Homo sapiens: one gene and its partners. The protein of the gene in region 1 interacts with the protein of each later gene in a biochemical or structural test. Each region holds a gene or a part of one and is shown on either strand. Other genes may lie near its edges.

What was found. Proteins that work in one complex are often made in the same cells at the same time.
Region 2: the proteins of HDAC1 (region 1) and ZBTB16 form a complex in vitro, tested with the Homo sapiens proteins (5 studies listed by BioGRID).
Region 3: of the proteins of HDAC1 (region 1) and CSNK2A1, one has a biochemical effect on the other in vitro, tested with the Homo sapiens proteins (3 studies listed by BioGRID and IntAct).

What each region holds. Positions count from the first base shown.
Region 1 is NC_000001.11:32,329,439-32,335,607, reverse strand, and holds the end of HDAC1 (histone deacetylase 1), read right to left. Parts: intron 5,031-6,169; coding exon 4,922-5,030; intron 4,841-4,921; coding exon 4,700-4,840; intron 4,135-4,699; coding exon 4,026-4,134; intron 3,933-4,025; coding exon 3,802-3,932; intron 3,519-3,801; coding exon 3,366-3,518; intron 2,908-3,365; coding exon 2,859-2,907; intron 2,592-2,858; coding exon 2,564-2,591; 3' UTR 1,982-2,563; downstream 1-1,981. Other genes in the region: MARCKSL1 (MARCKS-related protein), read left to right, coding at 511-1,011. UniProt on the Homo sapiens protein: Histone deacetylase that catalyzes the deacetylation of lysine residues on the N-terminal part of the core histones (H2A, H2B, H3 and H4).
Region 2 is NC_000011.10:114,251,097-114,258,776, forward strand, and holds the end of ZBTB16 (zinc finger and BTB domain-containing protein 16), read left to right. Parts: 3' UTR 1-5,669; downstream 5,670-7,680. UniProt on the Homo sapiens protein: Acts as a transcriptional repressor. Transcriptional repression may be mediated through recruitment of histone deacetylases to target promoters. May play a role in myeloid maturation and in the development and/or maintenance of other differentiated tissues.
Region 3 is NC_000020.11:497,280-506,404, reverse strand, and holds part of CSNK2A1 (casein kinase II subunit alpha), read left to right. Parts: intron 1-1,175; coding exon 1,176-1,287; intron 1,288-6,470; coding exon 6,471-6,572; intron 6,573-7,099; coding exon 7,100-7,150; intron 7,151-8,624; coding exon 8,625-8,684; intron 8,685-9,125. UniProt on the Homo sapiens protein: Catalytic subunit of a constitutively active serine/threonine-protein kinase complex that phosphorylates a large number of substrates containing acidic residues C-terminal to the phosphorylated serine or threonine.

The sequences.
Region 1 (6,169 bases):
AGCGCACTCCACCCGCCGACCCGACCTCGGTGGCCCACGGTCTTTTTTTTTTTAAGGGGGAGCCGAGATGCGGGAGAGCCTGGGGTGGGTGGGGGCCACTTACACAAAGCGGGAGGCTGGGAAAATAGGCCGTCCAGGTGCAGAGAGACAGCGCCCCGGGGCGGCTTCCCGCCCAATGTCGCCTAGAGCGGCTCGCCCGCCTGCCCGGGATCCGCACAGCAGATCCGGAGCGGTTCCGCGCGGAATAGAGAGCGCGCCCCGGGGGACGGGGGTGGGGGCCACGGGACCCCAGCGCCTCCTGCCGGTCGCGCCCTCTGCGCGCTCGCTCCCCGCGCGCCCGTGAGGGGCGAGAGGGAGGTGTTTGACGGGATCCTGGGTGTGGGTGAGGCTGAAGCCAGACTTTCGGGTTGCAGTAGAATCGAATCGAGGACCCCTTCCTCTAGAAGGGATCAGAAGCGGGCTGGGGGAGGGGGAGCCCCTGCCCTCATTGCTATTCCCTCTGCCCTGCAGGAGAATGGCCACGTGAAAAGCAATGGAGACTTATCCCCCAAGGGTGAAGGGGAGTCGCCCCCTGTGAACGGAACAGATGAGGCAGCCGGGGCCACTGGCGATGCCATCGAGCCAGCACCCCCTAGCCAGGGTGCTGAGGCCAAGGGGGAGGTCCCCCCCAAGGAGACCCCCAAGAAGAAGAAGAAATTCTCTTTCAAGAAGCCTTTCAAATTGAGCGGCCTGTCCTTCAAGAGAAATCGGAAGGAGGGTGGGGGTGATTCTTCTGCCTCCTCACCCACAGAGGAAGAGCAGGAGCAGGGGGAGATCGGTGCCTGCAGCGACGAGGGCACTGCTCAGGAAGGGAAGGCCGCAGCCACCCCTGAGAGCCAGGAACCCCAGGCCAAGGGGGCAGAGGCTAGTGCAGCCTCAGAAGAAGAGGCAGGGCCCCAGGCTACAGAGCCATCCACTCCCTCGGGGCCGGAGAGTGGCCCTACACCAGCCAGCGCTGAGCAGAATGAGTAGCTAGGTAGGGGCAGGTGGGTGATCTCTAAGCTGCAAAAACTGTGCTGTCCTTGTGAGGTCACTGCCTGGACCTGGTGCCCTGGCTGCCTTCCTGTGCCCAGAAAGGAAGGGGCTATTGCCTCCTCCCAGCCACGTTCCCTTTCCTCCTCTCCCTCCTGTGGATTCTCCCATCAGCCATCTGGTTCTCCTCTTAAGGCCAGTTGAAGATGGTCCCTTACAGCTTCCCAAGTTAGGTTAGTGATGTGAAATGCTCCTGTCCCTGGCCCTACCTCCTTCCCTGTCCCCACCCCTGCATAAGGCAGTTGTTGGTTTTCTTCCCCAATTCTTTTCCAAGTAGGTTTTGTTTACCCTACTCCCCAAATCCCTGAGCCAGAAGTGGGGTGCTTATACTCCCAAACCTTGAGTGTCCAGCCTTCCCCTGTTGTTTTTAGTCTCTTGTGCTGTGCCTAGTGGCACCTGGGCTGGGGAGGACACTGCCCCGTCTAGGTTTTTATAAATGTCTTACTCAAGTTCAAACCTCCAGCCTGTGAATCAACTGTGTCTCTTTTTTGACTTGGTAAGCAAGTATTAGGCTTTGGGGTGGGGGGAGGTCTGTAATGTGAAACAACTTCTTGTCTTTTTTTCTCCCACTGTTGTAAATAACTTTTAATGGCCAAACCCCAGATTTGTACTTTTTTTTTTTTTCTAACTGCTAAAACCATTCTCTTCCACCTGGTTTTACTGTAACATTTGGAAAAGGAATAAATGTCGTCCCTTTAGTGGTGCTTTAATGAGTGGTCTTCTGGGGGTAGGGTGAGAAGATTGGTGGAAAGTAGTTTACCTCAAACCTCAAGGGAGGAGTTAAGGCAGGCAGGTAAGTTTATGGGGTTTTCTTGTTCAGGGGGTTGCCCCAATACTCATGGACACCAGAACGGCAGGGAAGTAGAGTTGAAACCAACCCAGGGACACATAGGAAACAAGCTCAGGAGGATATAGAAATGTACCATTTTATTACAAAGAGGCTCACAAAAATGAAAATAGTATCTCAAAAAGGAAACTAGACTAGCAACCTCCACCTGCAGAATTAGGAGAAGACAGACAGAGGGCAGGCAGTGTTTCTTGGCTCACTTGAGGCCAGTGGGAAGGTACGAAAACAGAACCAATCTAAAAATGGCTGATGTTACTTTAGGAGCCTGAAAAAAACAGGAGATCCTTGAAGACCCAGCCACCCCTTCTAGAATGTTCAATAAGGGCACCTTTCCAAAGCTACTAAGCAGGCACTTGGCATTTCAGGAGTTTGTCTTATGGTTGCATAAAAGTATCCCTTTCACCCAGACCTGGCACCCTTTATGGTTCAAAGTTAAGAACGGGAAGAATGGGTGGCAAGGTGGCTCCTGGAAGAGCTCACCCAGCACAGCTGCCCTGAGCTCGGGGCCTTGGTTTCTGTCCCTGGGGATATTTATATTTAATAAATTTTTATATAAATACACAGAGAAATAGAAAATATAAAATCTGAGGGGTTGGGGAAGAAACGTGAGGGACTCAGCAGGAAGCCAGAGCTGGAGAGGTCCATTCAGGCCAACTTGACCTCCTCCTTGACCCTGTGGAGAGAGCAGAGACTGGCATGAGATGACCCAGCCCAGAGCCTCAGGGCAAAAGTGCAGACAGTGACTTCCACAGGATCCTAGGTGACTACTGGGGGCTGGGGCTCCTAGCTCTGCCTAGAACTGCAGAGCTGGACAGACTGGTCCCTGAAAGAGGCCTTTGTAAGCTGGACCAGCTGTCCCTGTGCCTTTCCTCAGAGTGGTGGGACAAAGGGGCTGGTGCTCCAATGCCAGGGAGATGGCCACAGGCAGCTCCTTCCTCACCCTTTGGCTTCTGGCTTCTCCTCCTTGGTTTTCTCCTCTTCGGTGACTTCTAGAACACAAGAGTACAGGGATGGCCAAGGGCAGCACCTCTGGGAAGACCCATGAGGTCTTCATTTACCCTGAGACCCCTTCCCCAACACTACAGCTCACTGGACATAAAGAGAGAAAAGCCCATCCCTGGTCCTCCCAGTGAGCCCTGTTGAGAACAGGTTGGACTGGTTTCCCAGCCTGCTACAGCCAGAACCTGGTGGGCGGAGGCAGCCCCCTGGGAAACTGGGGTGCAGTGCTGGGAAAAGGGCTGGGGTGGTATGTGAGAGCCGTGCTCAGGCAGTAGAGGTTCATTGTTTTGTGGGCTCTGCCACTTCTGGGAGCCACTGAAAGGCTCAAGGAACTGAGGAAGAGCCCCACAGGAGCTGGCAGGGCCTGAGTCACTCCCTCCTCCCACTGCCCTACATAGATTCATCCTCTCAGGCTCGAGACCCAAGTCCCAGCTGAACCCAAACCCACCTTTCTTCTCCTCTGGGTCTTTCTCTTTTTCATCCTCTGTTTTGACTCTCTTGGCTTTTTTGAAGTTGGAAGAGTTCTTGCGGCCCCCCTCTCCCTCCTCTTCAGAATCGGAGAACTCTTCCTCACAGGCAATTCGTTTGTCAGAGGAGCAGACTGGGAGGGAGTGGGAAGCATGGGTGAGAGGGCAGGCGGGTGCTGATTTAGCTCAGCATCTATGCCCAGTGCTTCCCTGCGTGTCCTCCAAGAGACACCAAGGGAAAGGGAACCAGAAGAGGGAGGAACTCGGGCTCCCTAACCTGTTCCTACAGGCACTGGAACTCGAAAACAGATTTCTCTACAGGTGGGGAGCTTGGAGGGAGTGTGCAGCCAGGAATGGTGGTGGAAGTGTGAGCTGCCTATTGAATGGAAGGCATAGGGCTCTAGGTCTGGGTCTCACTCGAGATGCGCTTGTCAGGGTCGTCTTCGTCCTCATCGCCACTCTCCTCAGGGATGGCGTCCTCAGGAATCGCCTGCATTTGGACCCCAGGTGCGTGCGGCAGCATTCTAAGGTTCTCAAACAGTCGCTGTCTGTGGCCAATGGGAGAGAGTAGCAGGGCTCTGGTCAGGGACAAACCAAAGTCAGGAATGTTCAACCAAGGGGTGGCTGGAGGATATACTCACTTGATCTTCTCCAGGTACTCATTCGTGTTCTGGTTAGTCATATTGGAAGGACTGATGTGGAGCTTGAAATCTGGTCCAAAGTATTCAAAGTAGTCATTGTATGGAAGCTCTGATTGGGGCAGGAGAGAAGACCGTCAAGAGACCTGGCCACCGCACCCTAACCATTTGCACGTAAGCACCCTAAAGCATTTGTAGGTTTCTCTGGGCCTATTTATCCAAACAGAGGAGAATGCCTCCAAGACACTGTGAGACACGGGTACCTATGGGATTTCCATCTTTTTAACATCACTCTCCTATGTCTGTACCAGTGGTGTATATGTCGCTAGGAGAAGGCCCATGTCCCTGGTTTAGGACACTTGAGGCCATGCTCATTATGAGCGCTCCCTTCACTCGCTACTCCAGTTACTCTACAGAGTAGAAATTCCAAAGCTGTAAATTACCAATGAGAACTTTGTCCAGACCAAAAGCAGGAGGGAGAGGGGAGAGAGCTAAAAAGGACTAGGGAAAAAGTGATGGTTATGGTCTGCTGATCACAAGAGGACAGGCAGGAGACTCAGTGACTAGTATCAGAAGAGGAGCGGTCATATGACCAACGGGGAAGGGGTTATAAACTTAAGGACAGATGAGCTCCAGCTCCCACCCAGCCCAGCCGAACCTGGCCCTGCAGCTATTACCATTAGGGATCTCCGTATCCAGGGCCACAGCTGTCTCATATGTCCAGCACCGGGCAACGTTACGAATGGTGTAACCACCGCCTCCCAGCATCAGCATAGGCAGGTTAAAGCTCTTGACAAATTCCACACACTTGGCGTGTCCTTTGGTGGGAGAAGGGGTGCTGAGTTACAGGAGCACCAAGCAGGACCCCGCCCACCCATCCTTGTGCTACCTGGTCTCACCTTTGATAGTTAGATTGAAGCAACCTAACCGATCCCCAGATAGGGAGTCTGAGCCACACTGTAAGACCACCGCACTAGGCTGGAACATCTCCATTACTTTGGACATGACCTAAAATGATACATCCTGGTCACCACCAACCTCAAGAAAGCAATACGAGGTTTGGAGTGGAAAGGCTGGGTGCAACACTTTCCCACCCACTCCTACCTTTCCACTCTCCCTCATGCTATGTGGGAGAGAAAAGGGAGTGCTAGGCTGGAGCCCTTGCTTGCCCACTTGGGATTTCAATTTTCCAATTTAAAAAGTTCTCTAAGACCCTTCTAACACTCTAGTAACACTGAACCTAGAATGGCCTCCCTCTCAACTCCCTAAGTCTCTTCTGTTGCCCAAGCTCTAGTGCCACTTCCTCCAGGAAGCCTTCCTGACCTTTAGCTGCATCTACTCTACTCATTCGGTCTTACAGACTTGAAGCCTTACATTATGAGCAAGCACTTTTAGTTTATCTTATTCTCACAAGCAGAGTCTAACGTTACTGAGACCGAGACCACAACTCCCACTTCTGTAGCCCTTATTAAATACTAGGCACATAGTGGGCAGTCAGTGTTTGCTGAATGACTACCTGACCTTATTAGGTTAAGCAGTTTCTTACTGTTTATAAGTGAAGATTTAACTCCTTGGCATGGCATTCAAGGCTCCCTTTGAAATACTGAGCCCAGCATACACTTCCCACCGCCTCCTTCAGCACTCCTCCCATACACCACACTGGCCTACATGCTGCCACACTGGCACCTCTGCACTTCTGCTAGTGCCATTCCTTCTACTAAATGCCACCCTTACTGCCATCACCTCCTTCTTCACATGGGCACCTCCTCATTTTCCAAAGTCCAGCTTAAACATCAGCACCTCTGTGAAATCATCCCTGGCTACCCTCCTGCCAGCCCAGGCAGTAGTTTGTCTCTCATTCCTCTGATCATCCCTCAAAAACACAGGCACTAGGCCAGCCTACCCATGGAACATGCCACACAGCCTTTCCAGAATCTCTGGATGGGCTGACTGGCAAAGGGCTTTCCCAGACAAAGCCAGTCTGCAAAGACTGGAGTAAGTCCCTACTTCTTCTAATGTGCAGACATCAATGTAAGGCAATGAGGAACACAAAAAACCAAGGAGACATACCACTACCAAAAGAACACAATAATCTCCCAGCAGCCCAAAGAAATGGAGATACAAAAACAGTACTAATCATAGACTAC
Region 2 (7,680 bases), on another chromosome or scaffold:
TTCCCACCACTCAGCCCACCTGCTGCTTTCCTCTGCTTTGCCACATCTGGGTGTCCCCCGGTGGTCTCTGAGAGCCTCAGGACCCCTGCCCCTCCTCCAGCTCTTTGTTCCCAGCCTCCCCTTGACTCCTGTCCTCCAAGTCCCAGGGGAGTCCCAGCCCCTCAGGGACCTGGCGGTGTCTCCATCCTTCTCCGGTTCCCTAGTGGGATAGCTGCCTCTGACTTCAGGGTCCCTCCTACCCTCAGCCTTCTGAGAACACAAAACAAATCCAATACCCCACCCTAGTCCAGCACCATCGTGAGCAAGATTCCTGCTGCGCTGCTTCCAAAATGGAAAAGCATCACAACTAAATACCTAATATCCTACCAAACAAACCACAGTCCCTACGTAGCCCTACTTCAGTCCCAGGAGAAGGAATCCATGAATGGGCTGAGGTTCCGAGGGTAGGTTGTGGATGTCTTTCTCTAGAGGGGTCCCACACCTGGAAAAGAGGACACCCAGCCCGTGGGATGAGGGAAGCTGGGCAAGGGAGAAAGTTGTTGAGTCACACTGGGGACCCCAGATGTAGTGAGCTCAGCAAGAAAAGCCAGGTCCAGAGAGAGTCGCACAGAATTCCTGACTCACAGCGCCCCTCGGTCCACAGTGGAGAGGAGGAGGAGGAGGAGCAGAAGGAGGGGGAGGAGCTGCAGGAGGAGGAGGATTTGAAAGCGCTTTGGCCTTGTGTTATGTTTTGCTTCTTTTCTGTGTCCCCTGTTAGCACATTGTACTTGAATTACCTCAGTTTTTTGTGACCTCATGAGCTTTCTTAACCTCTGTATCTCTTTTTCGGTTGGGGCTTGGAGGAATGGGGAGGGTGTTCTTTTCTGTTTCTTGTGTAAATTAATAGTTGTTTTTATAGACTTCAGCTGGTCAAGACCCTCCCCGTGCCCCTGGAGACCAGCCTCCCAGCTGGCAGGAACTGTGCAGGAGGAGTTGATACTCAGGATCTGAATGTGAGGGCCGAGGAGGGCGAAGAGCGTGGGTGGGGAGGGGATGTTGCTTTGGGGTCTCATGGTCCCCAGAGGGCACTAGGGAGTCACTTTTGGCTCCGCTGGTGCATGAAGTCACCTGTGGCCACCATCCGTTCCGCCTAAAACACTCTGGAGAGAATCCCACCTTTCTTACAATTTGCTGGGCCATTGAGGTTTGAGGGCCTGTGTTTGGATCCTTGCAACTGTGTGGTCTCACCTCTGTGCGTGCATTCTCATTGCCAGAATTGGTCTATTTTCACGGCTGGTCTTTGGGGAGGGGGGCGGGATCCAGCCTTTGTTTTGTTGTGTTGGGGTGGGGGTGTTGTTTTTCTAAAAGCTACCTCTTATGTTTGTCCAGTTGTTCTTTTGTTCCTTTCCCGCCTCCCATTCTGCTGCTCTTCCTCCCTCTTTTCCCCAACCTCCCCCGACCCTCCTGAATTTTGGAAAGCACATTTGCAATATTCGTGTTTGCTTTGGGACGGACCCTCCGTTTCATCTCATGCTTTATGTGTAAGAGTTTTTTATTATTATTTTTTCTTTCCTTTCTCTCTCTGAGAAAGTTGTGGCTGCGTTTTGATCTTAGGTTTTACAAAGTGGTTTAGGGAAGCGGTTTTGGGGAGAAGGATCACGAGGAATGTAGGGAAGCCGGAGGGATGGGTGCTGCTGCGACGACCCCCCCGTCCCTCGGCCCCAGCCCTCCTGCCCTCCCCTTCAATCTCATCCACCAAATCTGAAGGCCTTAAAATTGTGTGTTGGGAGGATGTGAATTGGGAGGACGGTGTCACTAGACTGTGGATTAGGGATGGTAAAGTAGGGAGGATGCTATTTTGCAACTATAGTAACGACTTAGTGTTTTGGAAAGGAAAAGAAGTTAAACTTGAAATACGTGACTAGAACAGTTGTCATGTTTATAATGTGAAAAGGGTGAAATCATTTGGGGGAGGGGCCGTCTGTAAGAAATCATTATGCACTATGGCTTCCTCCTCTGGTCTGGGAAGAAGCGGGGACTGGCTGGCCCTCAGGGGATCTGTAAATCCCAGAAAACAGTATTTTTAACAGCAAGATGTCATTCAACATTGGTGGGGAAGGAAGAGAAAAAAATCAAACTATTCCATAGAACTAGCTGGCCCCCTCACTCCCATGCCCTTCCCACTCAGCCTGGGCCCCTCCCCGCTCCATTCATAAAAGCTGAGAGGGTTGAGCTAATCTTCACAAATTGTAATATTTTTGTAGTATCTGTTAGTTCCTTCGTCAGTTCTGCAGAACCTTGCCCTTTCCTTTTGTAATGTGAATAGGAAGACAAAAGACAAAAAAAAATCCACCACCACCAAAATATCCCTTTGTACATGTATGTGCGTGTGCGCGTGTGCTTTGTGTGTGTGGTTGTGTGTTAAATCATGCAGTATTGTCGTAATCTGGTGTTGCAGCAATGGATGGTACTAAATCAGCACCTGGATGCCCCACCCAACCCCGTGGGCCCTGCAGACCCCAGTAGGGAGGTATGGGGAGAGCTCAGGGGAGTGTGGTTTCTGAGGGCTACTGTCTGGGGACACCTCTGAACTTACTGTACCTTCCTCTCCCCATGAAGACACCTGAATAGAGTCTAACATGCCTCTTCTCCAACTTCCTACCTACAACAACAGAACAGTTCTAATGTTGCACGGCCTAGTGGCCAGGGGGCAAGCTAAGAGGCTGTCTGGAGGCTTTATATGTGTCTGGAGTTAAGGGGAGAGGAGGAGGGTAGACAGGGGTCTCTCCCCAGGTGGGATCTGAATATCTGTCCTCCCCTCTTCTTCATGCCACCTGACTCCTTCGGCCCCCTGGCTGCCTTTAGCTGTGGTACTGCTGACAACCCTGCTTGCTACTGCCTTATCCAGCACAGTGAAAAACTTCTCCAGCCTGGCAAGGCCACGTTGGTTAATAGTCCCTTTCCCATGTCCAGCTCCTACAAATATGTCCCTTAATGCATTTGGTGACATTTACACCTCATGTGCTCTTTCCCTATTCACTCCTTCACTCATTCAAAGCATTAAAATCCTATGTATATATAGGATAGACAAATATATAGATATATAGATATATATATATATAGCAAGAGATTGATATAAAATAGTAAATATCATTGCTGCTTTGGGCTGCTTTGGAGGAGGAGGCCATGAATATGGGGAAGGCAGATCTGGGGTGCAGGGGTAGGTAGGGAGGCTGGGGGACCCAGTGATTCAGTACAATCCAAGGGATGCAACGCGGGCTTGTTTAATCTTTGTGCCTGAACAGTTTTTCCATGTTGAGAAAAAAAAGAAAAAAAAACTGCTGCAATTTTTCACAAGTGTATGGTACCTTTCTGGATGCTATTGGTACAATTGCTGTGGATGGAAGAGGGCCATTGAGCTTACCTCCCTATAGGGGAGAGAGCAGAGGTGGGGCAGCCTTTCGACTCTGTCCATGACGGCTGGCAGGGTCAGGGTAGTTTCTGGGCCTGCTTCCCGGCAAGCCGAGCTAGGGTGAAAACTGGGGGCGCACCAGGATGTGAGACAGAAAAGCAGAAGATGAGACTCTGTTCATTCACTTTTCCTAGGCCCATCCTGTGGTCATCTTTCCCCCTCCCATCATACCTCCTCCTTCCTGGAGCCTCTGCCGGCTTGGCTGTAATGGTGGCACTTACCTGGATATTTCAGTGGGAGGATGAAAGGCGAGACTCACCCTACGCGGTGGGACAGATGGGGAGAGGAAAAAGGCAGAGATGGCCAGGAGAGGGGTGCAGGACAAACCAGAGAGGTTGGGTCAGGGGAAAAGGGTGGGGAGAAAGAGGGGTGCAGGCCCTGCAGGCCGGTTAGCCAGCAGCTGCGGCCTCCCCGGGCCCTTGGCATCCAACTTCGCAGACAGGGTACCAGCCTCCTGGTGTGTATCATAGGATTTGTTCACATAGTGTTATGCATGATCTTCGTAAGGTTAAGAAGCCGTGGTGGTGCACCATGACATCCAACCCGTATATATAAAGATAAATATATATATATATGTATGTAAATTATAGCACTGAGGGCCCTGCTGCCCTGCTGGACCAAGCAAAACTAAGCCTTTTGGTTTGGGTATTATGTTTCGTTTTGTTATTTGTTTGTTTTTGTGGCTTGTCTTATGTCGTGATAGCACAAGTGCCAGTCGGATTGCTCTGTATTACAGAATAGTGTTTTTAATTCATCAATGTTCTAGTTAATGTCTACCTCAGCACCTCCTCTTAGCCTAATTTTAGGAGGTTGCCCAATTTTGTTTCTTCAATTTTACTGGTTACTTTTTTGTACAAATCAATCTCTTTCTCTCTTTCTCTCCTCCCCACCTCTCACCCTTGCCCTCTCCATCTCCCTCTCCCGCCCTCCCCTCCTCCCTCTGGCTCCCCGTCTCATTTCTGTCCACTCCATTCTCTCTCCCTCTCTCCTGCCTCCTGCTGCCCCCTCCCCAGCCCACTTCCCCGAGTTGTGCTTGCCGCTCCTTATCTGTTCTAGTTCCGAAGCAGTTTCACTCGAAGTTGTGCAGTCCTGGTTGCAGCTTTCCGCATCTGCCTTCGTTTCGTGTAGATTGACGCGTTTCTTTGTAATTTCAGTGTTTCTGACAAGATTTAAAAAAAAAAAAAAAGGAAAAAAAAAGAAAAAATGAATTTACTGCTGCAGGTTTTTTTCTCTCTCCATGTGTCACTAAGTGAAGTTTGTGCCTTCTATAGCAAAGAGAATATTTTTTACATCCTACTAACAGTAGATTTTTTTGTAGTGAACATTTTTTGTATTTTTATTTATAAGTCTCATAAGAAAAATAGCAATGTTCAGTTGTATACCTTGAATCTGCAGTTAGAAGAGAATAAAGTTAATTCAGTTGTCTCTCGCTTGAAGCGTCCCACCTTTTTATTGAAGTACTTGGTTTTGTTTTGTTTTTTTTTTTTGTTTTTTTTGCCTTTTCTTGTGTGGGGAACATGGTAGAGGAATTAAGATTTTTGTGTGGGGACTGGGAAAAAGAAAGCTCTGTATTACACATATTTAGACTTATCTATGTGTCACTTTTATGCCACATTTACAAGGCACAGATGCACTGAATAACATTTTTCTAATACTTTTTAGTTAAAAAATGTTAAATACGTTAATATCGTATGATCCTTGGTACAATGTGCTAGGTAGGCACTTGTTCACTTATTCAGCAAGACCACCATGTACCAGTTACTGTTGTCGGCGCTGGGAATTACAGCAAAGGACAAACAGACAAACCCTGGCCGCCCTGGGGCTACCATGCTAGCGGGCCGCTGAGTCGGAATCCGTGGCTGTGTTAGGATAACTTGCTCAGGATTGCACGGCTGGTGAGCAGCAGTCAGAACTCCATCCACCTCTCCTGATACCAGGCCAGGTTCCTTTACTCCAGAGTTCTCAAAGCAGGGGTCTCACGTCTTCTTTAGTCTTTAGAGAGACATTTTCAACTGACTCCTTAGTGGCTAAGCAAGCTTCAGAAATTTCTCAACAAGAAGCTTCCACACAATCAAAGGTCCCTGCCTGCGTCTGTAGCAGCCAAGAGCTGTTAAGAAAGGAGATTGGAGCAGGTGGCCTTGTGCAGGGGAGGGGATGGGTGGGAGGTGGCCGTGCAAGCTCTGCATTGTCATGGACGGAATAAAGGATTTCCACAACACTCAATGGGTACGATTCCCTCCCTGTCTCATCTCCCTGTGTCTGGGCCAAGCCCTCTTCTCTGGCCCTTTCCCCGTTCCTCTTATCGGGGATAGAAGCATCGCCCTATCTTTAGCTGTAAAACCAAAGCCACTCAATCCTAGACGTGGTGCTTCAGCACCTCTGCCTGAGGCCGTCCTCACTGCCTGTCTCTGACCAAAATAACCCCTCTCCTCCTCAAGACCCAGGGGACACAGCCATGATTGTCGTGCTGGGTCACTCCGGTAGGGTAAACCCACACCGAGCATCAGGCCTGGCCTCCAGCATCACCAGGAGTCGCAGGGAGCCATCACCCCACGCGCCACCGCCACCCACCTGGGGAGCCAAACAAGGCCTGGCCTGCCAGGGGTGGCACTGGGAGGGTTACCTTTCAGCCCTGTTCTCCTGGGGCCAAGACCCGGGTCTGTCTGACCCTGGGGTTGCTGAGCAGAAACCGCCTGGAGCTACCCCTACCACCGGACAATCTTCCCAGGAGGAGGAACAGGTGCAGCCTGGGGGCCTCCAGCCCCTAGAAGTTGCTTCTCTGTCTTTGCTTTCTCCTCTCCCTCTTTGCCGTCTGCTGTGCTTTCTTGACCCCTCCTGCCCCTCATCTTTTTCCTCTCTCCCAATCTTTTTTCTCTCCTTTCCACTCCTCCCCTCTCTTCCTCATCTGTGGTCTTTTCTCCTTTCTTTTTGCTTTTGTTTCTCTGTCCCACCTTATTTTCCCTCTCCACATATTTCTCATCTGGGAAACCAGTCCTTAACCAAATTCTGTGTTTTGATTTTGAGCAGTTGCCACCATTCCCCCAAGCCGTCCTGATCCTGGCTTTTCTTGGGCCCCTGCCTATTTCCTCACCCCCACACTCTACTCCAACTCCCCGACACACACACACAGACACACACACACAGCCTCCTCGCCCCTCCCCCAGCTCCCCTCCCCTCCCTCAGGCCTCAGCTTTCTCTTGACAGATGGGAGGGCAGTGAGCACTCCCTCTTTAAAACAACATTTAATCGCCGTTTTCTGTTCTTGGACATCAAAGCTGGGGCTTAGGCGCTGTGCTGGGGTCGCGGCGGCGCGGGCGCTGGGGGAGAGGAGGTGAGTGAATAGGGGCTGGGCTGAATGGGCTTTGTGTGACCGCCAGCTCTGCCAGCTTTACATGCTCTTTGACCCAGATATGATCTCATGGAGAGAAAGGGGCCCTGGCCAGGCCAGCCTGAGAATGCTCCCTCCGTGGCCTGACTCAACCCCTCTCCTCCCTGCCTGGGGCAGGCGGCCCCACTGCCGCCCCCTGCCAGCCCCGGCTGCCACTGCCCTCTGCCCCAACCCTGGCAATTGTGGGCAGCCTCCTCCAGAACACACTCACCAGGAGGGCACATTGCTGGGGTCAGAAGAGGGGACAGGCACCGAGGCAGGGGCTGGGAGGATGCCGCCGTGGGGCTGCAGGGTGTTCTCCAGGGACCTTAAGCGGGAGCTCCCCGCATGCCCTGTAGTCCTGGCTGGGTTCAAGGAGGCGTTTGGGTCATTTCAGCCTTAGCAGCTCTCCTCCCAGTCGCTCTGAGGAACTCCTCTCCTGACCAAAGTGGAGAGCTGAGGCCCGGCGCCAGCAGAGGTTTGCTGAAGACTCAGGCAAGTTGCAGCCCGTGAGAAGAGGCATAAGGGAAGCCAAGGCCAAGGCCGCCTCCCTCCACTCAGCACGGCCAGGCCTTCCCATGTGGGAGCCCCTCACGCCCCTGGCACCAGGAAGGGAGGGGATTGGGGATCTGAAGATGACTGGCCTCAGTGCCCTGCTTCAGCCCAGACCCTCTGTCACTTCCATCCTCTGCTTTGCTTGCTGCCCAGAGCGATTTTCCAAAAATGCAAATAGCATCATGTCGCTCCCTAGATGAGAGTCCCTGGTGACTCCTCAGTACTCTGAGGATGGAATTCAAACTCCTTAACAAAGTTCCAAGACACCCTGAGTGACAGAGCCCCTGCTCAGCACCCAACTTCGTCT
Region 3 (9,125 bases), on another chromosome or scaffold:
ATAATGTGCTTCGTACTACGCATGGACTATCCCCAGAGCTTGCCCTGGAGGGCAAATAGATTAAGCCTATACATTTGAAAGCCATTTACCTTCAAAGAGGCCTGTTAAAAATCAGCTGCTGCCAAAGTGTGGCTAGATTGAAACAGTCTTGCAAAATGTTTTTAGTTCCTGCTAAGTGCCAACACTGGACCAAGCACTAAGGGACAAGAATATATAAAAATTATTCTCCGGCCGGGTGCGGTGGCTCACGCCTGTAATCCCAGCACTTTGGGAGGCCAAGGCGGGCGGATCACAAGGTCAGGAGATCGAGACCATCCTGGCTAACACGGTGAAACCCCGTCTTTACTAAAAATACAAAAAAATTAGCCGGGCGTGGTGGTGGGCGCCTGTAGTCCCAGCTACTAGGGGAGGCTGAGGCAGGAGAATGGCGTGAACCTGGGAGGCGGGGCTTGCAGCGAGCCGAGATCACGCCACTGCACTCCAGCCTGGGCGACAGAGCAAGACTCCGTCTCAAAAAAAAAAAAAAAAAAAAAAATTATTCTCTTGGGGAAAGCTGTCTCTTGTTGGAGACAAACGTATTTAGAACAAACCTTAATACAAGCCAGCTCCATGTCATGTGCCAATAAAGATGTAAACAGTTTGGGATTAGAAAGAATAATTGAAAGGTATAAGTTTTTCTAATTCTAGGATTTGAAACACACGTATTTTAATTGGCCTAATTTAAAAAAAAAAAAAATACAATGGGCCAGGCGCGGTGGCTCACGCCTGTAATCCCAGCACTTTGGGAGGCCGAGGCGGACGAATCACGAGGTCAGGAGATCGAGACCATCCTGGTTAACACGGTGAGGACCCGCCGTCTCTACTAAAAATTCAAAAAATTAGCCGGGCATGGTGGCAGGCGCCTGTGGTCCCAGCTGCTCGGGAGGCTGAGGCAGGAGAATGGTGTGAACCCGGGAGGTGGAGCTGGCAGTCAGCAGAGATCGCGCCACTGCACTCTAGCCTGGGCGACAGAGTGAGACTCCATCTCCAAAAAAAAAAAAAAAAAAAAAAAAACCTATTTGGGAATTGTTTGAAATACTTCTTATTTCTATTACAGCTGCTGGTAATAGATTCCTGTAATTTGAATTGATGCTGATAATTTGACCGTTTATAAGTCATTTTGTTTGTGTCCACAGAAATCAAGATGACTACCAGCTGGTTCGAAAATTAGGCCGAGGTAAATACAGTGAAGTATTTGAAGCCATCAACATCACAAATAATGAAAAAGTTGTTGTTAAAATTCTCAAGGTGAGTACAAGAGATAATTTCAGAGGTATTTGGAATATAGATTTTTAAAAGTAGTTTTGAAGACTTTTTTAAAACAGCATTTAAAAGGTTTTTGGTGCCAAAGCAAATAAATAAAATTTTATTGTATCCTATGAACTCAATAGAACAAGTTCTGCTTATTTGACAGATCGGGAAACTGAAGCAAGAGAAGTGATTTGAGTTGACTCATATAGCTAGGTTGTGGCAGAGTAAGGGAGCAAAGGTACAGTCTCTTCTCTCCCAGTTATTGCCTAATACTTATTTCCTTTACTTTTCATTATATAATGAGGCTTTTGTTTTCAATAAATAAATCATTGCCTCTACTTTGTAAAGATGAGGAGTCACAGGACTCGAGGGGGACAGACAGATGATATTAGTGCAGCTAGTCGGGTGTAATTGCCCTTGCTTAGGTGATGTGAGTGGTAGGGACTGAAACAAACTGGGAAACACATGCCTCTTCAAAAGGAGTTAGCTGCTTCTCAGCTGAAGCTGATGATTGCCCTGCAGTAATGCAAGTCCATTGTTGCTTGATACTCTGTTTTGCAAATAAAAGCCAGAAATTTATATTTGTATATGAATTTTCCTGACTTTTAAGTGTTGGCTCAAGATTTTAAAAAAACAATGCACAGGCCAGATTTGGCCTCTGGGAGACCAATATACAACTTTTAATTTAGTTATAACTATGCTGTGCACTGTCATATATTGGGAACTTAGCATATAGTTCCTTACCACAGGAACTTTTTCATATTTGACACTGAAAAGTAGAAGTTTCCAAACTTTCTCAATTTATAACACTTATACTGTCTTTAATTTTTCACGGTACTCCTAAGTCAAGAAATACCTCATAGTTCTCTGTATTAAGTAGCAAGGTCCAAATAGCTAAGTAAGTTTTGTTTTTTTTATTGTTTTTGTTTTTGTTTTGAGAAGGAGTCTCGCTCTGTCGCCCAGGCTGGAGTGCAGTGGCGCGATCTCGGCTCACTGCAACCTCCGCCTCCTGGGTTCAAGCGATTCTCCTGCCTTAGCCTCCCAAGTAGCTGGGACTACAGATGCACGCCAGCAATGCCCGGCTAATTTTTGTAATTTTAATAGAGACGGGGTTTCACCATATTGGTCAGGCTGGTCTCAAACTCCTGACCTCAGGTGATCCGCCCGCCTCGGCCTCCCAAAGTGCTGGGATTACAGGCGTGAGCCACTGCGCCTGCCCGCTAAGTATTTATATCTTAGCAACTTGGTAGCCATTTAAAAAGTTATTCACATAAATTAAAAGAAAAAAGTTAAATTTGTTCTTATATAACTATAATTTGTTACTGTTGGGTTATGTAGACCTGTTGCTGCATAGCTTTTCAAATGTTGTCATTGGTTGGACACCACCACCCTCATTTCCTGTCATTGATTTTTGTGCAGTACTTGCTTTTTACCACAGCAACTACTGCAAACCCAGCTTCACAAAAATATGCCATCGCGAGGAGTATAACACAATCCATCACGAGGAGTGTAACACAATCTAATGTTGAAACTACGAACCACCTCAAGCTGGCAGTGCACCCAGTGTCTGGCAGATTCAACGATGGGTTGATGTGTCTTCCTCAAAAATGTAAAGTGTTCCACAGTATTCCTGTGCATTGCTGGGGTGCTTCACATGCCCTTTGAGAACCAGAGAGTTTAAGTATTTATATCTGTCTTGAAATATGTAGAAAGAGAACTAGGTTGGAAATCAAAACATGTGGGTGACTAGCCATAGTAGTCCTTTTAACCTAGGACATGTTTATCCATCTATTAAAAAGAATGTTGGCTGAGCATGGTGGCATGTGCCTTTAGTCGCAGGTCCTCGAGGGGCTAAAGTGGGAGGATCGCTTGAGCCTGGAAGTTGAAGGTTGCACGGATCTATGATCAAACCACTGCACTCCAGCCTGGGCGATGAGAATGAGACCCTGTCTCAAAAAACAAAAAGGATCAAACACAAAATTGTGTGTATATATACATACGTTGGAGACTGGAGTTCTTTGTGATTGTATGGTGATATTCATATGGAAAGGTATATGATAGAATGAGGTGATATATTATTATTTAGAGCCACATGAAAAGCATGCATAGTGGGTCTACAGTTCAGAAGAGGGTAGTAGTTAGGAAAAGCTCCCAGGAGCTGTCTTCAGGCTGAATGGGAGGAGGATTTGGATAGGTGTTGGGTGGAAGTGGTGAAGGGAAGCAGGCTGTAGAGTGCACCAAGATAAGAAAAGAGGAGGAGGGAAAAGTGAGAGAAATATTTCATGTGAAAGATGTTATGTGACCATACATAGGAGTTGAACTTGGAAAGAGAGATTAAGTTGGCGAAGGCCTGGAAAAAATAATCTCTGCATTTCCTTGCAGTCTTAAAATTATATGACTATCTCTTCTAGGTAATTGTGAGCCCTTGATGATTTTGAATGAAGGGTGATTTAGAAAGATTTTTTTCAGCTCAGTCTTTCTAACTGTATTGTATATTTTACTGTAACTGTGGGTAGGTGGTGTAAGTATAGATGAATTTCCTTTGTAAACCATATTTAAAATTTTTAATCTCCCCTATTTAATAAGACAAAAGTTGCATTGATCGCATTAAATTCGGGCCTGAGTCAGCTGCCTGGTCTGTCACAAACCAGCTTTTTAAGTTTATAGATTTGAAGCATTCTGTAGAGTAGTTTTGTCAACCAGAAGCTTTTTTTTTCCACTAAAAAACCAGCAGTTGGGTTAATGGAAAACAGGAGGTAAGTTGTTGGGTTAGTCTCTGCAGGGTGGAAAGATCTCCCAGATAATATAACAGTTTATAAAGATCTGAATAGTTGAAGCAGGAAGAGAAGACTTATATTATCTTGTTTCTTAGGTAGATATTGTATTGGGTAAGAGGTCGTGGGTTGAATTCAATGGACTACATGGAAGTCATTAGTAAAATAGCTTCTGTTTATTGGGTACCACTTTGCATTGGACCTGTTCTAACTGTGGTATGTAAATCACTAACAGGCGAGTATAGTCCCTTTCAGCAGTGAGAAACATTTAAATGCTTTTCTGAACACTGCACAACCACAAAGCCAGGTTTTGAGAACTGTCAATGTTTCCAAAATCTGCTTGCTTTCTGCTATCATGTGCTTGAGGCTTAAGACAAAGTTAAAAGAATTTATAGTATTATTTGGTAGTTTCTGGACCTGGATCATCAGCCTGGAAAGTATCTAAAAATAAATCCCCCGTTTCCCTCTCAAGATTTTGATTTAGTGAATCTTGGTGGGTTCTGTGAGTCTGTATATTAAAAAAATCCAGGTGATTGTTGGTCATCAAACTTTAGTAACCACCAATCTTGTTAATGAAGAGATGAGATGTACTTAACTTCTAAGAGTTATATGCAGTGCATCTAGTCTGAGGTGACCAACACCCTAGGAAAAGACCTGCACAGTCCAGTACAGCAGGCACGCAGGCCACATGAGGCTGTTAAGCACTTGAAATATGGCTGGGCTGAATTGAGATATGCTGTAAGAGTAAAATACATTAGATTTCAAGGGTTTAATACAAAAAAAGGTAAAATAGATTAATAATTTTTATATTGATTTATATGTTAAGATTTTAGATTAATAAAGTACATTAATTTTGTCCTTTTTAAAATTTTCTTGATGTGGCTACTAACACATTTAAAATTACACATGTGGTTTGTATTATATTTCCTTTGGGCCAGCACTGTTTTAGACTATTCAGGAGAAGGCTTTATAATATAAGCCCAGGCACAGTGGCTCATGCCTATAATCCCAGCACTTTGGAAGGCCAAGGCAGGCGGATCATGAGGTCAGGAGTTCGAGACGATCCTGACCAACATGATGAAACCCTGTCTCTACTAAAAATACAAAAATTAGCTGGGCATGGTGGCTGGCGCCTGTAATCCCAGCTACTCGGGAGGCTGAGGCAGGAGAATTGCTTGAACCCGGGAGGCGGAAGTTGCAGTGAGCTGAGATCATGCTACTACACTCCAGCCTGGGCGACAGAGCAAGACTCTGTCTCAAAAAAAAAAAAAGGCTTTATAAAGGAGGTGCAGTGGGACCAAGGCCCTCCTCAGAAAAAAATGAAAAGGATTCCATACTAGAACAGATGTGGAAAGAATGGGTAAGGACAAAGGAATGTTTAAGATATGCTCTGCAGAATACTCTTTAGAATGGAGGGGTTCATTTATAAGAGTATTGGCACTTTGGGAGGCCGAGGCAGGCAGATCACGAGGTCAGGAGATCGAGACCATCCTGGCTAACACGGTGAAACCCCGTCTCTACTAAAAATACAAAAATTAGCCTGGCCTGGTGGCGGGTGCCTGTAGTCCCAGCTACTCGGGAGGCTGAGGCAAGAGAATGGCGTGAACCCAGGAGGCGGAGGTTGCAGTGAGCCAAGATTGCACCACTGCACTCCAGCCTGGGTGACAGAGCAAGACTCTGTCTCAAAAAAAAAAAAAAAAAAAAAAGAGCATTGGTGATCAGGCTAGACAGTTATTATTATGTTATGTTTCAGCCATATTCCGAAATCTTTCGAATACCTCATTTGATTCTTGCAACAATCTTATGAGATGGGTACTCTTGTTACTCATTTTACACTTAATGAAAGGCTTAGAGAGGTTATGTAGTTTGCCATTAACAGCCAGCAGGTAGTAAAGGTAGGTTTCACATTGGGCATTGTGACTCCAAGACTCACCCTTTACCCTCAGGGTTGTGCTACACAAAGATGTTTTGGCCATCCTTGTTGTTGGCCCTAATTAGAGGAAGAAATGGAAAGGGCCCATGTTTCATCCTAATTGATAAAAAGTTTGATATACTTTAGTATTACTAACGATTTAAATTGCTACTTTGTAAGGTTTTAAGACATTAACATGTTTAACATGTTTTAAAACATTAACATCAAGACTGATGATTGAAATGCTAATTCTGCAGAAGTGTCTGGTCTTTGGAATAGAAATCTTTTTTTCTTTCAATTCAACATTTGTAAGTACCTGCAGAATACCTGGCACAGTGCTAGGAGAAGGATTCAGAGACGAATGTGACACATTTTCTTCCTTCAAGGTGTGCTCATAAGTAAGCCATTTATCATTTATGTATTACACTACGTGTTGAAATACTCTGAAAAAATTTTTTTTTTTTTTTTTTGCTGATGTACTTTTCCCCTTTCAGCCAGTAAAAAAGAAGAAAATTAAGCGTGAAATAAAGATTTTGGAGAATTTGAGAGGAGGTCCCAACATCATCACACTGGCAGACATTGTAAAAGACCCTGTGGTGAGTATAGTAGGTGTTAGCAAGGCCCGCCAGAGCTGAGATGGTGTTTGACCTGGAGCACAACTGGCCTCTTTTTGTTCCCTCCCCCAACCCTCATCATTAAGTCCTGCTTTGAAAGTGCTTAATCAGATATACCATTTAACTAGCTTGGGTCTTTCTTTCAAAGAGACCTCCACCCACAGACTATTTCTTATTCTTCTAGGCTAAGAGACTGATAGCACTGGAAACTGAAATGTGTTAATCCATTTTGCAAACTCAGGTCCGATGCCGATGGGCGATGGGCGCATTGTCGGGCTGCCTAGAGCCTGGTGAGACTTCAGCTCCATGTCTTCTGTTTGAAATCCATCCCAAAAATGACCTAAGTGCGGTGATGATCAGAGCGGGGAGGGCTTGTAGCAATAGAGGGTTTCTTACTACTGAGGCGAGGACTGCCAAATTTCACCACGCAGCATCCGCAAACATTGTCCCCATTAAAGCTGTCAGGGCTATTGCTAATGTGTGTTTTTGTTTTTGTTCTTTTCCCCTAGTCACGAACCCCCGCCTTGGTTTTTGAACACGTAAACAACACAGACTTCAAGGTATAATATATAACCAACTGTTTCGGGCTAGTGGGTTTTTAGACCACATAGCCTTTGGGGATGATGCTGTTAGAAGAGCTTGCTTCGCATTTGTTTTTAAAAAGCTTTTCATCCTTACAGTGCAAATTTTAAGATAGAAGAACTCCTATATAAGCAGTGCCCACTTTCTGCATCTTGATATTTTGCCCATTTGTTTAATGTTCTTTTTAATGACCAACACATTGACTTCTCACTACTTAGTTGACAGTTTCTGCTGATGTCCAACCTAATGAAGGCAGTAACACACGTTCACTTAGGATCTGGCCATATGGCAATTCGCTTTAAACAATAGTGTTCAGGAAGAAATATATTGTATGTATAAAAGTAGGGACTGCTTATTTCTTAGGATTCCTCATAAACTGTGGGCTATAGATCTTAAAAGGCAGGGATCGAGGAAGGATAATGTCAAATTCTGCCATAACACAAACCTCTATAAGAGATATCTCAGAATTCCAGTCTATCCAGTGGCCTACTTATTTCACACAGTTCCAATTTTACAGAAGAATATAGCTACTCTTTTGGAGTAAAAGTAAAAATCTTCGATTTGCCTTTCCACCAGTCCAGTATCCAGAATGTTATATATTAATAAATTAGTGAATTCTGTTGCAGAGATAGGGAGAAAGGAAGAGGAACTGCTTTAGAGTCAGAATGATAATTTCAAGAAAAACTTTGTCAGAAGACGTTGCTAACCATTAAAGAGACGTACCTGTGGCTGGGCATGGTGGCTTTCGCCTGTAGTCCTAGCTACTGGGGAAGCTGAGGTAGGAGGATCGCTTGAGCCCAGGAGTTTGAGGTTGCAGTGAGTTATGATTGCAGCACGGCACTCCAGCCTGGGCAGCAGAGTGAGGACCCTGTCTCAAAAAAAAAAAAAAAAAAAAAAGATATGTCCATGTAAAAAACATTCTGCAACTCTTTGGAAACTGGAAAGGATACATAACAGTTGTTCAGAGTTTACTTTCCAATTGGAACAAGAATAGTTTTGTTAAATTGACTCAACAGGTTTGGTATCATGCCATCTGCATACCCACTGGTGATCTGCAGGGCCAACTATGTAAGGCAAAGATGAGTTAGTTCCCTACTAAGGAGGCAGTATATTTGCCAAAATGCCTCTTTTGAGAAGGTCTGAAGATACATGAAAAGCAAACTAAATTATAGGTGGGTGTCAGTGCATATTAACGTATCTAGATCAGTATGTTTCTGACAGTGGATTATAGCTTCCGCAATATATGTTTAAGTAATTCTTCATTTTTAAGAGTTGAAGACCCAAAGTATCTCTTTAAAGTTAATGTAATGTTGGAGAAATAGAGGGCAGTGAATGGACAGATCTTGGAACAACGGTAAATGAGCCAAGTCTTGGTTTGAATTACTGTGAGTGAGGGTGAAAAATGCCTTTCTGTCAGCATTATTTCATGGCTCAAACATTTGTCTTTAACAGCAATTGTACCAGACGTTAACAGACTATGATATTCGATTTTACATGTATGAGATTCTGAAGGTAAGTGAACCTTGAATACTAAATATTTTTTAAATTGGTCTTCTTTTTGTTAAATAGTCAATTGATGGTAGAAAAGCCAGCAGATTAACTTTGTAAAGTATGTTGAAAGAAGGGACCTCTATATAAGTTTTTAATAAGTTAATAGTATCATACCTGTAATCCCAGCACTTTGGAAGGCTGAGGCAGGAGGATTGCTTGAGGCCAGGAGATCAAAAGACCAGCCTGGGTGACATAGTGAGATCCCCATCTCTACAAAAAAAAATTGTTTAATTACCTGGGCATGGTGGTGTGCACCTGTAAGTCCCAGCTACTTGGGAGGCCAAGGCAGGAGGATTGCTTGAGGCCAGGAGATCAAGACCAGCCTGAGCAACATAGTGAGACCCTGTCTCTACAAAAAATTTAAAAATTAGCTGGGTATGGTGGCTTATGCTTGTAATTCCA